Linked DNA regions of Homo sapiens. The protein of the gene in region 2 purifies or fractionates together with the protein of the main gene of each other region. This does not show direct contact. Each region holds a gene or a part of one and is shown on either strand. Other genes may lie near its edges.

Region 1 (3,649 bases), on a different chromosome or scaffold from region 2:
CTTGCTCACTTACCCGATTCCCCTACACCACTAAGAACTTCCTGGGGTAAAATGTAAGTCTTCTCTGTTTAGGGCACATAGTAGACTCTCAGCAAATGTTCACTGAATGCACAGAGTCTTTAGATAAATCAAACACATCCCCTCCTCTGTATGGCCTTCCCCAAGCACAGGCCCCTCCCTAAAGTGTGTGCGGCGTTATCAGATTGGTGTGAATGTTAATCTCTTTAAAGGAAGCAGGAATTTATCTGTACTCCATTTGGATCCACCCCCCACCCCCCCCCTCCACCTGCATGGACCTGGCACAAGGCTCATCTGACTACTTCAACCCCAACCCAAACACATCGTCAAAGGACCATCACCAGAGAACCTCATTTTCTTATGGGACTGTATCCTGCTGCCACCCTCCTCTGCATATACAATGTGGTATCACTGTGCACCCTAATTCTCTACAAAAGTCTTGGCAGGTGAGGCGTTATGTGGGAAGCCCACGGGAATTACCCTAAACCTGACCAAGAGAATAAATAAGGCAGTCACTGTTTGCCTCTGTTCTCTCCAGATCGAGGATACTTAAGATAGTTAATCTTCTGTGGTCACATCCTCCTTCAAGAATTTTATAAAACCATGGTACAGATTTTTCCAGGAAAAATGACTGTTCACAAATTTTAGCCGCTAATTCAGGGGGCCATGATCTGGCAGTCAGGGCGAATGATGTGTGGCCACTCCAAGAGCTACGAATTAAGCCCCTGCCTCAGGCTTCCTCCATCTCACAGTCACAACCTGAGGCCCTATAACCTTTCAAACCTCCTAGGCAGAACAGGCACACATGCTTGTGAGACTACCTCCGCTCCCCACACGCTCTTTCTCACCCTGAGGAGTTGTCTTACCTTCAACCAGCAAAAGAACCAATTAAGGACTGTGGTATCTAACCTCTGAATTGGAAAGAGAAGGAGAACCACAGGATAATATCCAGCTCAAGGAAGGTATGGGATGGCGGGGCTGGGGAAAGGTCCCAGAAAGTAGGAGGAATGTGGGGAAAACAGGGTTGGGGGAGAGTTGCTCACAGTGGGGAAAGGAGTTGAAGAGGGCTTAGGCCTTTCAAGCATCTGGAGAGTTTCTTCAAAATGAGGATTATCTGGCCCCACCCTTAGGAATCTTTATTCAGGAGGTGGGACCTAGAGAAACCCCCAAGCAATTGTGATGCAATGGTCGGACCATCTGGGTACAACTTTGAGATAATTCCAGGGAGTTAAGAAAGAGCCTGAGGTCCTGCAAACTCTTTTTTTTTTTTGAGACAGAGTCTCACTCCGTTGCCAGGCTGGAGTGCAGTGGTGCGATCTGGCCTCACTGCAACCTCCACCTTTCGGGTTCAAGCAATTCCCCTGCCTCAGCCTCCCAAGTAGCTGGGACTACAGGCACGTGCCACCACGCCCGGCTAAATTTTTTTTTTTTTTTTTTTGTATTTTAGTAGAGACGGGGTTTCACCGTGTTGGCCACAATGGTCTCGATCTCCTGACCTCATGATCTGCCCGCCTCGGCCTCCCAAAGTGCTAGGATTACAGGCGTGAGCCACCGCGCCTGGCCCGGTCCTGCAAACGTTTTTTTTTTCTTGAGACGGAGTCTTGCTCTGTTGCCCAGGCTGGAGTGCAGGGGCGCGATCCCGGCTCACTGCAAGCTCCGCCTGCCAGGTTCACGCCATTCTCCTGCCTCAGCCTCCCGAGTAGCTGGGACTACAGGCGCCCGCCACCATGCCCAGCTAATTTTTTTTTTTTTTTTTTGTATTTTTAGTAGAGACGGGGTTTCACCGTGTTAGCCAGGATGGTCTTGATCTCCTGACCTCGTGATCCTCCTGCGTCAGCCTCCCAAAGTGCTGGGATTACAGGCGTGAGCCACTGCGCCCAGCCCCTGCAAACTTTTATCATCACCTTTGCCATCATAATCACTCATCATCATCATCATCTCAGCAAACACTAAGATTTTATCAGTACTAAGCATTTTACACACATGATCTCTTTCCTCCCAACCCTCTCAAATGGGTAGTATTTATTATTACACTCCTTCCCATACTACAGATGATCAAATGGGGGCTGAGAAAGAATAAACTGTCTTAAGTCACAGAAGTAGTATGTGGAAGAACCAGGACTTGAGAAACAAGAATGCCTCTTCACATCCCAGAGTCTGGGGGAAAGAAACAGAAATATCTGAGGCTAGAATCTGATTCCTGTTATGTCACACCCGCCTCCCCACCATTCCTGGACTGCCAACCTTGCCCCGTAAGGAGGGAATAAGAAACAGTGGGCCTAAGGGTCAAGGAATGAACCAGCCCAGGCTTCCTAGGCTGCTGCTGTTCACCCAGGGGCCCGTAGAAATGCAGGAAGAGAGCCAGGGTGGCCTGGAAGGGCAGGAGCAGCAATAAGGAGGCCTTCCCTCACCCGTGTTCCCACCATCTCTGAACTTTGTCCCCAGCAGTTGGGCACTGGGAGTCATTAATCCCACACAGCAGCCTTTGATACATGCAGCGCCTTATCTGCCCTTCCCCGGGCCCTGGCTGCCTTCCTGGGCAACGGTGCCCTACCTCCCCCCAGTGACATGGGCACCCAGGACCCTGAGAAGCCAGAGCCTGAGGGGGAACAGGCGCAGGGACCCATGTCCCTCAGATAGAGGAGCAGAAGTGCCGTCAGGGGTGTAGGAGTAAGGGATAAGGAGGGGACGGAGTCCCAGAAAAGCTGAAGGAAATACTGTCTGTGTCAACATCTGGGAAGGGATGAGAACAGAGGTGAGAGTTCACCCGGAAACTTCACTTCCAGCCCACCCCGGGGACCAAGGTCCATTTTGCTGAGTGCTGTGGCCAGAGAAAAAACACACAGAGGCAGCCACCACTGTCCCAGTAGCCAGGTCAGCTCTGACTCCCCACCCTCACCCCAGCACTGTTACACAACGGTCACTGCCGCGGGCACAAAACACCAAGGGACAAACGGACTGTCGCGGGGAGAGGGGAAGAAAATGGGGTTGCGTGGGGTGGAGCTGAACAGAAGCCTCCCACAGAGAGCAAGTGTGCAGACCTCAGCTCCTCTCCCCTCTCTCCCACAACCCTCTATTAGCCTCTGCAGGGCTTCTGGGCACCTGCATGTCAGATCGTTGGGGTTAGAACCCTCGCTCCACCACTTCCTAGCTGTGTGACATTAACCAAGTGAATTTACTTTTCTGAACCTGTTTCCATACTGTGAAATGGAAATAATGAAACCTGCCTCTTGAAATTATTTGGGAGAATTAAATGAGATCTCATGCCTATAAGGTCTATTACATTAAGGTCTATTTACATTACATGTAAAGGACAAATCATTTTTTTTTCTAAGTCTTCTAATTGCTGAATAGACCATTTTATTTCCAGCATCGGGCACACAGTGGGTGCTCCTTGGTTCGATGAATAAACAAGCCAATCCCCTCGCTGGTTGGTAAGTCCTATGAAGGCAATGATGGTATGTCTCTTACTACTGCATCCTCACCACCCACCATGGACCCTGGCAGATAAAAGGTGCTCAATACATTGTTGAACAGAATCTCTGCACCAACTATCCTTGCTCACGGCAGGGGCAGCCCTCACCTTCTTCTTTCCCTACACCCCTCCCCGAACCCTGATTCCCACTTAGCT
Region 2 (4,202 bases):
AACAAGGGCAGCAGCCCCCGGCTTGGAAGCCTCCCTCCTGCCCCTCCTTACACACGAAGGGGCAGAAGGGCTCTGGGCACAAGCAGTACTTTGGTAGAAAATCAGAAGGCCCTCTTACATCCCCGGGGGCGCCATGAAGGGACTTGGCTGCTGCCAGCCCCTCGCCAAACTCCTCTGAGTGGTCCAGGGGATAAGGCCGACACGCCCCTCCCATTCACTGGGGTGTGGTTTCCAGCACTTAGGACATTCCATGTAGCTTCTCCAACAGGACTCCTCCTCCCCACACTCAAACCCAAAGGACCCTTTCATAAACCAGATGATCATTTCTGGAAAGTTACATTTCTTAATTTCAGGAATTGTTCCAATTCGTGCAAAGAAAATAAAAGGTAATTATCTAATTCCAGTAAAACTTAATGGGGCCCTTCCCACCCCTGGCCAATGGTTGGTGTGAAATGTAATTTGACTTAAACTGTCTAAGGCTGTGAAAGTGTACAATATTCGGAAGGGTGGGGGGCATTACCCCTTGTGGGAGCCATATTTTTCTAGAAGGCATTTTGATCAAGACAGGCCTCCCGCGGTTATTGATCTTAGGGTCATTGAGAGTCCAAGAACTGGGGAGATGAAGGCCACCCGGCGTCAGCACCGCGAGGGCGGAGGGAAGGCGGGCGCTGAGTCTCCCATTGGGGTTCTAGCCGAGGGTTCCAGCCAGGACTGCGTGATCTGGGGGCAGCTCGGAGAGCTCTCCCGACCCAGTATCGGGTCTATAAATGGAGATAAAGATCAGCACCTGGAGGGAGTGGTTTCTCGAGGGCTGAGAGCCTCGCCCACAAACTGTAGTCAGCATCTTCACTGAAGTTGGCCTGTCTTGGATATTTCTTCTCTCCTCCCCTTCCCCCACCTCCCCTCCTAATTCATCAACTGCTGAAACATCTGCCTGGCTGAAACCGCCTTCTCGCCGCGCGCTGGGGGCTGTCCCCAGGTGTTGGTCTTTGTGTCGAGAAAACTTTGCGAGGAGGCGAGGGAGCTGGACAAAGAGCGGGCGAGGGAGGGCGTTTGCCAGCCTGAGGGGTGCGCCGGGCGGTGCGCGCACTTCCCTGGGCTCAGCTCCGTACCCGGTCGCTCGCGGTGGCCAGAGCCCAGTCTCTCTAGGCCAGGAGTGGCGTCCGGCTGCATCCCCGCGCCCTCGGGAGCTGAATAAAGCCAGGCGGGAGAAGCAAAGGCTAGCGCCTGGACGCTGGAGTTGGTGGGAGGAGGCGAGCAGAGGCGCGGAGCAAAGCTGTCAAACTGCGCGCGGAGCCGGGCGCGGGGCGGGGGAAGGGAGAGGAGGGAGGGAGGGGCAGGCGGGAGCCGGGAGGGAGCGAGCGGGCTCGCCGCGCCTGAGCAACCCCTGCCTGTCGCTGCCGCTGCCGCTGCCGCTGCCGCCGCCGGCCCGGACTCGTCCGGAGCGCAGGGTGTCTGCCCAGCTGCGCGCGGCGCGCGGAGGCTCCGGCGTCCGCCGCTGCGCCCTCCGGCCCCTGCTCCTCGCGCCGGCCCGCGTGGGTCCCGGCGGGCGCGAACCCACCATGCAGCTGCAGTTCCGGAGCTGGATGCTGGCCGCGCTCACGCTGCTCGTGGTCTTCCTCATCTTCGCAGACATCTCAGAGATCGAAGAAGAAATCGGGTAAATAGCTGCTCCCAGGCCCGTGCCACGAGCCCTGGCGGGATCTCTCCCTCCTTCTGTACTCTCCACCCTCCGACCCCCTTTGTGTGCGCCGCGCCCCGCTGTAGCTCCGCTGGAGAGATGGGGACGGTTTGGCAGAAGGTGGCGGCGACAGGGGCCCGGGACGGTTTGGGGAGAGGAGGGTGGGGGCGCGGCTGCTGTGGGGTGTCCCCGGGCGGGGTTCACGGGAAGCCCCCAGCTGGCCCGCGTCGGGAAGCGGACTCGCCCACCCTGCCCCCCTGCCTGGCGTGTCCAAGCGCAGTGTCGCCGGGGTCGAGGGAGGGCGCCGGGGAGTGTCTCGGGCGGGCGGAGGGGCCGAGAGTGGAGGGAGGCAGGAGTTTCTTTGTCTCCAGCACGGCCGCTTTCTCGCCTTGGCAAAGTGGGCAGGGGGCGCGCAGGGATCTCTGAGCTGGGGGAGGGGTTCCTGGGGCCGGAGCGGAGGGCGGGGTTCTGCATGGGCTACTGGGAAGCGGAATGTCCCCTGCACACACAGACAGGCACACGCGCCTCCCGCCGGCCCGGGAGCCCGGCGTAGGAGCTGGCACCACTAGAGAAGGGCTCGCATAGCTGGACTGAGACCCCCCGCCCTCGCCTGGCTTTGGACGTTCAGCCAAGCCACGGCAACCCCGGCGACCCTGGGTTCCTGTGCGCTCGCAGCGCGGAGACGGAGACATTTCGGGAAAGTCTGTACCGCCGCCCGGTGGGCTTCTGGGCCCTCAGGCGGGCGATCTGGCGCTTTTTTTCTCCCGACCTCGCCAGAGGTAGGGTGGGACCGCGAGCCCGGATCCTCCCGGCTCCGGACTTCCTGGAGTGCGCACTTGAGGCGCGGGACGCACCGGCTGTGTGTCCCAGGGGCTGAGACTCGCGCCCCGCCCCGCAGCCTTCGGCTCGCCGGGCCGGGCCCCTCTCCGGAACCTCCAAAGGGCGGTAGACGACAGGTGGGGAGGCAGCCGGGGTTCTGAGGAGGCCCGAGGAGAGCTTCCTGGCCCTGGGCAAGGGGAAGGTGAGGTCTCAAAGAGGGCAGAAGGTCTCTTCTTCTGTGGGATTTGTGCTCTGCCAGGCGCTCTTCTCGAGTCCCGCGCCGCGTGCGCCCCTCCTTTGTCCCATTTGTTACTTCATTTGTTATCTGTGCTAGTTGAGGGTCCGCCACACTGTCAGTCCCTCAAATGGGAGATGCCAGTCCTGGGCCCAGGCGGGATGCCGAGGCCCCAAGGACAAAAACTTGTGACAAGTGCCGCTTCCTGCTCTCATTTTCTCCCTGCCCCTGCCCATCTCCCTGGAATTCCTTCTGTGAACTCCGCTGGGCTTCCAGAACCCCTCTCCCTGCCTCTTTCTCCTCTCATTCTCGGTTTCCCCAAGAGCTCTGAAAACTTTCACAAATGCTGCGCAGTTAATACACAACGTGCCACCAATTCCCACGCAGAGATAAACATGCTACTTTTCATAGCTGCTCGCCTCAGAAACGTGGATTGGAAAGGAAATCGGGCAAGTCACGTCTTGGGGTAATGGAAGATGCGGTGAGGAGGGCCTTCCTCTAGGCTCTCCGGCTTCTGATTCCGGATGTGGGCACTGCCCGGCTCAGATCACTTGCTGACCTTTGCCCATGTGAGAGGGAAGGCCCGGCGCTGCCCATTGTCCTGTTATAAAAACATAAGTGCTGTGCTTATCCAGGCACCCCTAGGTCAGCCATTCACTGAATTCTTACCAAATACCTTCCACATGCTGGGAACTTTTAATTTTTAAAATGCAATCAGGAGATCACTTTGCACATAATGTTGCACTTTCTTGCCAAATGCACGGTGAAGCCTACGCTCCCCACATCAGGTTGTTCCCATATATGTACGCACCCCGGGGACTTGTCTCACTTGAGTGCTCCCTGCTTCTTTTTATCCTGTCTCTGCTGGGCCAATCCTAGGAAAAAACGGTCAAACAAGTACGATGTGTCACCTCCTGTGGCATCTTCCTTCCCTCTCTTGCCTCTCGTCCCAGGCTGACCACTGGCTTGACCAGTCCTGACCAGGCCTAAGACACCCTCTCTCCCAGGCTGATGTAGCTGCCTTAGGTCAACACTGCATATGCCTTTCGACTGGGATGGGCACTCTTGCCCCACCCACGGTCAGCCCCACACATGTTTAATCCAGAGGAATGGAGGCATATTTTGGGATTCACCATGGCTGGAGGAGTAAACACATGGGCAGAGCATGGGAATCCCAACAGCACCTTCTGTCTGCTTACAAGTGAGGGGTTTCTTTTTGTTTGTTTGTTTTTGTTTTTTTTTTTGTCTTTTCTTTTTTTCTTTTTCTTTTTTTTGAGACGGAGTCTCATTCTGTCGCCCAGGATGGAGTGCAGTGGCACAATCTCGGCTCACTGCAACCTCCGCCTCCCGGGTTCAAGCAATTCTCCTGTTTCAGCCTCCCGAGTAGCTGGGATTACAGGCACCTGCCACCACACCAGGCTAATTTTTGTATTTTTATTAGAGACGGGGTTTCACCATGTTGGCCAG
Region 3 (2,771 bases), on a different chromosome or scaffold from region 2:
TGACCTGCCCTGACATGCGACCTCTGGGAAGATTCTCTATTTCTTAATATTTCTGAGAAATGACATTCTGGAGAGGGTCTCTGATATTTTTCACCTTCTTTTGTGATTTGTGATGTCAACATTTTCCATTTCTGGACTATTTCCCTGGAGTGAGCAAGAATCCTTTCTTCTGAAAAAAATGACTTGAAGTCAGGATTACTTTTTTATTTTTTTATTATTAATTTATCTTTTTTTTTTTTTTTTTTTTTTGAGATGGAGTCTTGCTCTGTTGCCCAGGCTGGAGTGCAGTGGCATCATCTCGGCCCCCTGCAACCTCCACCTGCCAGGTTCAAGTGGTTCTCTTGCCTCAGTGTCCTGAGTAGCTGGGATTACAGGCACTCGCCACCATGCCTGGCACATTTTTGTATTTTTAGTAGAGATGGGGTTTCACCATGTTGGTCAGGCTGGTCTTGAACTCCTGACCTCGTGATTCACCTGTCTTGGCCTCCCAAAGTGCTGGGATTACAGGCGTGAGCCACTACACCCGGCCAGGACCACTTTTTAAATCTCAGTTTCCTCTTCTCTATAAGGGGGCTAGTTGATTTCTCTCAGGAATGTTGCTGAACTGAATGCCAAACCATGGAACACATTCCCCCACCCATTCTATACACAGCTAAATGTCTTTGCCTTTGTACTCCAAGACCCTCTGTACTTTTATTAAAGTCCAGAACAAACAGTTAATGACTACTGGTTCCTGTTGTATTTTCTTTTTATATTCTTGAGGACTCAATACCATGTTGAGCATGTGGTAGGGGATCAAAAAAGTAAAATTTTAATGAATAATGGTGACCTGTGACACCACCCCTGTAAGCAGCAGGCACGCTAGGCATCGGCCTCTCCTGCCCTCCATCTCCTTTCAGTTGGGTAAGCCTCCAAGCACAGAAGGAGTAAAGCACCCTGTGCTCAGAGGCATGTCACTTTTCCTAAACTTGCAAACCTTCAGGTTGTGAGCTGATAACCAAATGGTGTTAAAAGGATTTCAACCCTATCTGATTCCAGGAGGAAGGGAAAGGGAAGGGGCTGTTCTGACTCTGGAGTGTCAAGTGTGTGAATATTCCAAATCTAATAGCTGAGGCTTGGTTCAGTTGTTCTCACTTGCCTCTCTGGAAGGACCCACCTAGATCCCCCAGGCTGCTCCCGGGCCGGGGTGGTCTGGACAGGAGACCCACCCCTTCCACTGACACCTGTCTCTGTTAATGGAATTGGTAGAAGGCATGTTTTGGAGGGACCGGGTGCTATTAGGCTCCTGAGTCACTGCATTTTGGCCCTGTAAGGACAGCCCAGGGTCTACTACAGGGCCTCCTTTGAATTTGACAGTGCTTGGTGAGATCTAGCAATAAATACCTTGGGTAAGTCTGGAGTGATGGTTTCTTACACAGTGTACCTTCTCAATGACTGGCTGGGGTTGTACCAAAAATGAATGAACAGATAGTGCCACTAGGACCTCTGATCCCTTGCTCATGGTAGACTCATTTGAACATTCCTTTAGCCACGACTCTGCACCCCCAAATGAAAACATATTGAATTTACATTCACTGATCATTTTACACTGGACCACCGCCTCCATCGACTATGCCAGTCCCAGCAGCTAGATTATATTCCATGTGCTGGTCCTGTCTTCCTCCACTCCTCCCCGCTGCCTCTTGCATCCACAGTTCATGCTTCTACCAGACCATCCCTGTCAGGGGACAGGAATTTACAGGCAGTTTGCAAAGAGCATCTTCTTCAGTCAGAGACTCTCATTGCAGTTTCCTTTCAGTCACCATATTCCTGAACAGGCTTGGAAACTTGACTTAACCTTGCTGGGCCCTCTTATTTCTTCAGCTCTTCAAGGAGTATGGTAAAAGCAAGATCCAACGATGTGCTGCAGAGGGAGGCTCTCTGCCTATTGAAAAGTACCATGTCCACCAGGGGCCTGCTGTAAATATTTCTGCTACTTCCTCTGGGGGAGATGATGGCTTAATGACAACTTCAATGGATTCTAAAGAGGAAGGCATCCTCTCTGCTCTCTGTTCATGATATGGGGTGGGGCATAGGCCATGCTAAGGTCAGGTCAGGCTGGAGCTGCTGAAACGTACCAAGGTGACTCACTTCCCTGATAACACTGCTGAGAAAAATGCAGGCTTCTTCTTGCCCTTCCTGTATCTGGGACACACCTCTTAGGATGGAAGATATTTGGCACCTGGGAAGAAATGTTAAGTCAGGTCAGGAAGAACTGGCTCTGAGTCTGGGCTTTTCCTTTTGAGTTCAGAAAGAGTTGGGTAAAAACTAAATACATAAATAACCTGTGCTTTGGCTCTGAGTAGCCTCTAAGCCTGAGTTTATAGTCAATGTGACCTTGGGCAAGTTTCTCATGTTCTCTGGGCCTAATTCCTCCTCTTTGAAATTTCCATAATAATATCTGCATCCTGGGGTTGCTTGGAGAAATTTCAATGAGTTCTTAAGTGTAGGAGATGATTAATAACGTCCATTTCTGTCATTTTCCTGCGGTATAAACCATGTCAGGAAGCCGGTTTATTTTGCTTGTTTGTATTTTCTCTTTTACTGTAATGAATGTTTTATTTTTATTAAAATCCAATGGGTTTAATTCTGTAAAAGGCTGACTGCATGAAGAATGCATGAAAAAACTGAGGATAAGAAGGGTTTATGTGACCATCTCCAACAAGCTGGCTGCTCAGGGGCAGAAGTAAAACTGAACTCCAGCCACTCCTCTGGGGGCAGGTACAGTGGTT

Evidence for each region.
Region 1: the proteins of ST8SIA2 (region 2) and PCDH1 purify together in Homo sapiens (affinity purification with mass spectrometry; one large-scale study listed by BioGRID and IntAct). This does not show direct contact.
Region 3: the proteins of ST8SIA2 (region 2) and HS3ST1 purify together in Homo sapiens (affinity purification with mass spectrometry; one large-scale study listed by BioGRID and IntAct). This does not show direct contact.

Annotation. Positions count from the first base shown.
Region 1 is NC_000005.10:141,871,857-141,875,505, forward strand, and holds part of PCDH1 (protocadherin-1 isoform 2 precursor), read right to left. Parts: intron 1-3,649. UniProt on the Homo sapiens protein: May be involved in cell-cell interaction processes and in cell adhesion.
Region 2 is NC_000015.10:92,392,503-92,396,704, forward strand, and holds the start of ST8SIA2 (alpha-2,8-sialyltransferase 8B isoform 1 precursor), read left to right. Parts: upstream 1-1,378; 5' UTR 1,379-1,562; coding exon 1,563-1,660; intron 1,661-4,202. UniProt on the Homo sapiens protein: Catalyzes the transfer of a sialic acid from a CMP-linked sialic acid donor onto a terminal alpha-2,3-, alpha-2,6-, or alpha-2,8-linked sialic acid of an N-linked glycan acceptor through alpha-2,8-linkages.
Region 3 is NC_000004.12:11,395,247-11,398,017, forward strand, and holds part of HS3ST1 (heparan sulfate glucosamine 3-O-sulfotransferase 1 precursor), read right to left. Parts: 3' UTR 1-2,771. UniProt on the Homo sapiens protein: Sulfotransferase that utilizes 3'-phospho-5'-adenylyl sulfate (PAPS) to catalyze the transfer of a sulfo group to position 3 of glucosamine residues in heparan. Catalyzes the rate limiting step in the biosynthesis of heparan sulfate (HSact).